Linked DNA regions of Homo sapiens: region 2 is linked to region 1. The links come from fine-mapping of genetic effects on gene expression. A gene starts in region 1. The other region holds a variant in brackets. All regions are shown on one strand. Distances are from middle to middle.

Evidence for each region. PIP is the estimated chance that this variant, and not a neighbour inherited with it, causes the effect. A credible set is the group of variants that fine-mapping cannot tell apart.
Region 2: its variant is the best candidate, but not a certain one, in a credible set for the expression of PIP4P2 in whole blood (INTERVAL, PIP 0.78).

The regions. Positions count from the first base shown.
Region 1 is chr8:91,039,187-91,042,107 of GRCh38, reverse strand. It overlaps PIP4P2 (phosphatidylinositol-4,5-bisphosphate 4-phosphatase 2), which reads left to right and starts at 1,249. Exons shown (of 7, transcript NM_018710.3): 1 at 1,249-1,464. The coding sequence starts at 1,359. RefSeq lists a silencer at 1,028-1,227.
Region 2 is chr8:90,761,971-90,764,891 of GRCh38, reverse strand. All of the region lies in intron 1 of LOC105375633 (a long non-coding RNA gene), which reads left to right. Among named protein-coding and RNA genes, the nearest start is that of NECAB1, 28 kb to the left of the region's middle. The variant C/T (reference allele first, on the strand shown) is at 1,249.

The DNA of each region.
Region 1 (2,921 bases):
GGTCTTGCCATGTTGAAGAAGAGATTAGGCTCAATTCTGAATGCAGCATGGACAAGTGGGAATTTATAGCCTAGGAGCATGCAGGACAGGGGCAGTAGATGGAAAATTACCAAGGAAATATCAGGGATAAGGGGGATTCTGACTAAACCAAGCAAACGGGATTCTTGCTGAAGACAGAACAGGAGTTCAGGCCTCACATGGGGGATGCTGGAGGATGAGGAACCTGATCAAATATCAATATTGAGAATGGGGCTTCTTGCTAAATTAAGTTAGTAGGGTTCTTTGCTAAAACTGGATTTTATAAGGAAGTGCAGATGGGCCCAGCATAAGATTCAGAAACCTTACTTGTTTGACCAAGCAAAGAATCTTTGTCAGTGCTTAGGGTTTTTTGTGTTTTAACTCTGTTTTACAAGTAAACGATTATTTTAAAACTTTTGTCTCAAGAAACTTGTTTTTCGTTGTTTGACGTTATTCATAAACCTACTTACTGTATATGTGTCAGGGACAATAGGCTACAAAACCAAAACTAAGATGACAACCTATTTTGTAAAATGAAACTTGTAAAAGGCAACACACTGCATAGTTCCAAAAAGGTACTGTTACCAGAGTTCCAAACCGGTCAGGCCAACATTCCTGTTGTTAAAAAAAATCAATCAGGAAAAGTAGGGAATGCTGACACTTCCGCAAAGATCTACTTTCTCTTAGATAACAGATGTTGAAAACTGATTTCCCACAAAAAAACCCTAGAGGAATTGATAACCCCAGGAAGATGTTTTCTTTATATAACTGCTGCAAAGTTTGACAGCAAAGAGTCAGTCCCTCCTCCTCCTTAGGGGAGATAAACTTGATAATCTGCTTTTGCTCCAGTTTTCTTGTAATCAAGTCACAGGCCTTTCCTCTTCGCTAGCCCCTTTCAGGCTGCTTTTTATCCGTCTTTCCTAGAGCAAAGGACTTGTCCCCCTCCATCCCATTTACTCTCGACCCCCTTTCAGTTACTTGGCATCTTCTTTTCCTCGCGTTTCCCAGTTGGTCCTAATTTGTTCCCCTTTTCTCTGGCTGGCTGGGCTCCCGCTCCTCCACTGCTGCTCCTCCCACTCTGCGGGTTCTTTCTTTCTCCCTCCCCTCCCCTCCCCCAGCCATGCCTCCCAGCGCGCTTCCCTTCCCCCGCCTCCTGGTCCTGCACCCTCCCCTCCCCTCCCCCCGCTTCCTGCCTTGTGACACATCCCGGGCCCTCCCGGAGGCGGCAGCAGCAGCAGCTGCAGCGGCAGCAGCGGCAGCAGAGGCAGCAGCAGTAGCCACCACTCCGCCGAGGCCGCAACCCCGGCTCGGCCTCCCCAGGCCCCGCCGCTGCCGCAGTCATGGCTGCTGATGGGGTGGACGAACGCTCGCCTCTGCTGTCAGCATCCCACTCCGGAAATGTCACTCCCACCGCCCCACCGTACTTGCAAGAAAGCAGCCCCAGAGGTAAGGCCAGCGTAGATCCCTCTACTTTGCAAGGAAGTAGATTTGCAAGGAAACGCCCAGAAGGATAAAGACCTGGGAGCTCTAGCTTGGAGGTGGAGGTGAGCCTCTCGCTTGGGCTGAGGAAGGATGCTGACTGTGCCTTCCCAGGCAAGCCCGCCTGCCTGATAGCTTCTCCGCAGGGTTTTTCTGGTGGTGGTGGTGATGGTGGTGGTGGTGGTGGTGGTGATGGTGGTGGTGGTGGTGGTGGTGATGGTGTGTGTGTGTATTTCACCACTTCTTACCCAGGGCTACAGTATGTGACATGAATTTCCCAAGCTCTGCTTAGCTGTTTTCAGAACAGCCCCTAAGCGCAGCTAGGAGGTGGTGCAAATCTTTCACAATCATTCACAAATCTTTTTCCGTTGCTGAGAAACCAGGAGTATTGCTCACCTTGGCATCTGTCCTTGAAAGGGCTTTAGCTTGAACAATATGCTTCTGCTACCATTCACCCAACAGTGCTCTGTTCACTCAGTGAATTGCCATATCCAAAATGAATACAGTTAATCAATATTCCTAATATGTCTGAAATTCCTGCCCCTCCTTTTTACTCCTACTTTCAAGGAGTATGTGTTAGATTTAATTGTGAATGAGAAGGAAGGACCTTACTTCTCATAGAAGGGAAGATGGGATATTTTTAACACATATCTGGGTGAGATTGAAATTAACTTGTAAAAAGTAACCCAAATTAATAATACATATATTTCTATTTTTTTCTCAAGAAGAATAAAAAAAGATTAAATGCAATGGGATCTGGAGAAATATGGAATCTATTTACCATACTATTCGATTTATTTAAAAATCGATCGTTGTTCTAAGCCTTTTAGTTGATTACTATAGTAAATAAATAAGGTGGAGTCAGGCGTTACAAGAAAATGGAAGGCAAGACTTAAAAAAACCCACTTAGGTTAGTGAAAAGATTGGTCAAAATGGCACTTGCAAATGTTCCTTAAGTGCATCTCTCTCTTTTTTTGGCTAAATATGAGCAAAGTTTAAAAACCCAAGGAAGCAAAAGTTAATGATTTTGAAAATATAAGTAGGTAATGTTTCTTGTAATACAAGTTTTTAAGTTCAAGTCTGGAATTAGAGCTGATGTAGAGCAGGTTGAACTTGCTTAGTATTTAAAATTTCTATTTAACATTTTGTAACTTCAAAATAAACTATCTAGATCTTAATCCATACTTAACAAGAAGAAAAACAAAGGAAAAAGATGCTTAGCTGTAAATAATTCAGTGTGAGCCATGGCTTGAGAAATAAGGCACAGAGAGAGACTTGCCCACAGAAAACCTACAGGTCATTTTTGTTGGTCAGCATTAAACTTGTATCAGAGGACACCAGGCAAGAGAATTTCCTCTAATGGGCCAATTTGATATGAATATTTTACTGTTATCTAAATCGTATTATGTAGAATAGACTTAAAC
Region 2 (2,921 bases), 280 kb after region 1:
TATAACTTTCTTAGGGTCTAAACTTCCTGTAATGGAACCCAGCCCTTTAAGGATGAAGGCTGGCCCTCTAAGTGTTGAATGTAGCTATTTAAACATGAGTCCTGACCCTTCAAGTATAGAATCTTACTTTATAGGCATGGAAAGTCCATCCAAATGTGAATCCTGCCCTTCCACACATAGGATCATTCCTATAGGATCATTCCTATAGAATCACTCCTTCTAGAATCTCATGTGGAATCTGGAATTCAAGATGTGAATCAGAGCCTCTAGCCATAGAATTAGACCTTGGAGGCAAACCATGACTTCCTACCCGTTTGATGTCTCTTTCTCCAGGCTTAAAACATAGCCTTCTAGTGGTAGAACCAAAATTTAAAGAGATGTTATGTAGCCCAACAACTGTGGAATCTGATCATCTAGGCCTAAAATATCTAATCTGAACTTCTAAGTCTGAAATAAAACCTTCCAGTTTTGATATTTGACTGTAGACATGGAATATAATTCTCCATGTTCAAAACTGGCCATCTATAAGTAAAACCTGAATTTTTGAGTGTGGTAAGGTAGTTCTCCAGACATTGAACTTGACCCCCCATTTATAGAACTGTGCCTTGAGGTATGGAACATGTCACTTCATGTGTGGAATCACAGTCTCCAAAGATGGAAACTTATGAGCATGAAACTTGGCATTTCCAGTATGAAGTCTCAAATTCCATGCATGGAACATGACTCCACATGCAAGGCATATGGCAAACTATGTGTGGCCTTACAAGTATACAGCCTGGCACTTTGTGTGCAGACTCTCACTTATCAAACATGGAACACTGATATTACAAGTGTGGAAACTGGCAACCTAGACATGGTTGGTACCTGAATTTTCAGTTATAGATGCTGTGTTATGTAAATGAGCCAAAGATGGCCTCTGTGTATTGGTCCCTAAGTTATTTCTTCACTGCTGGTTGAGAACCATTAGCTCAAAAGCCTACTGATCTCACACTTAAATTTTTACACATTTAATTGTTTTAAAAATGCTCCCAAACAAGCATAATTTTGGCATTTAGGGCCAACCTGCTTTGCATATTCAATGAAACTACACCCAATATCTGCTAGCCATTGATAAGGTAGAGTCTTGTGGTTATAAGACACCAAGGTGCTGCTGCTGCCCTTCTGAGTTTTCTGACCCAGAGACACTCTGTTATGCTGCTGAATGAACATCACTTAGATACACAGCCTCCCTCTTCTATCCCCTTAACC[C/T]GAGGTTCCCTTGCCTCCTCCTTTTCTGGATGATGGCCCACTCACCATAAGCCTCTGGATGGACTCATCCTGTAGGGACTTCCCCTCTATGCCAACCTGTCTAAGCACCACACAATAAAGCTTATTGGGTGTTACTGCATCTTGTGGTCATATCTCTTTCCCTGATTAGCCCCAAATCTCTTAAAGGAACCCCTTACATGTTGCCACTCTGAGAAATGGAAACCAGTCTCCCAGGCACAAAATCTGATATGTCATATATAAAATCTCAATCTTCAAGCATGGAACTTGGTCATACAACATGGAATCTGGTCCTCCACATGAGATATGGCCCTAAAGGCATAGAACTTTGACCCCATCATCTCCAGCATAAAATCTAGCCCTCTAAGCAGGCACACTGGCCTTCCAGGTGTTTAATGTGGCCCTTAAAAATATCAACCCTGACTCTCCAAGCACAGAATCTGATTATTCAGACATGGAATGTCTCTGCAGAAATAAATCCTGCCTCTCCAAGCATACACACTTAACCTAGGTATAGAGCCTGAGCTGCTATATATGGATCCTTGTCTTCTGGCCATGGAGTAGTCTTTCAGATATGCCACAGGTTATGACCTATGTGAAGTATCTTTTACCAAGCTTGGACCCTCAGGTTCTTGGATGAAACCTGAATCTCAAAACATGTCATCTGGCCCACTAGAAATGGTTCCTGGACATCTAGATCTGAACTCTGGACTTCTAAATATCTAACCTGTACTTCTGGGAATGAAACGAGATGTTTTAGTCTTAGCACTTGATCCCTAAATATGGAATCTGAGTCTAAATGTTTGGAATTTGGCTATCTGTGGATAAAATATGGCTTTCTCAGTATGACATCATACATCTCCAGGTGTTGAATGTGGCCCTCAACTGTAGAACTGTGCTTTCACGTATGGAACATGCCACTCCATGTATAAAATCTTAGTCTTCAGCATGGAATATTATCTTTGGAATATGCCATTCAGTGTATACAATCTCAGTCTCCAAGAATGGAATATGACCATATAAGCAGGGCAACTGACACTCCATGTTTAGAACCACAAATTCCAAAAAGGGAACATGGCCATACAAATGCAGAACTTGACATTCCAGACATGGAACTTAGATTTTGGTCATGGAAGTTGGTTTTCCTAGACATGGAACCTTGCTTCCTTAGCATGAATAGTCAGATTCCATGCATGGAATATAATCTTTCAATCATGGAATTATTCACCCACCATTGGATATGCCCACTGAGGCATGAAATATGGTCTTATAAGTTTGGATTTTGTCCTCGATGGCAAGGAAACAAGCCCTTAATATATGAAAAATTCTTTTCTAGAGAGATAGATACATATATACTTAGATAAATAAGTAGATAAACACAAGTAGGCAAAGTATGGGTGTTTTTTTGGGAAAATTTTTCTGTTAATTGTCTTATTATAAGAATTAAGTTACTTCTAATTCTTTCAGAACAATGCTTGGTTCATAGTAAGCACTTGGAAAATACTAAGTGACGTTGTTATTATTGCTACTACTACTATCTCTTTTATTCATTTATTCCTTCATTCAGAAAATGTTCAATATAACACACATAGGGTTCCAGCATGTATTTGTTGTTCTTATTAAACAACAAGAATACTCATTCACTTGTGTGAATA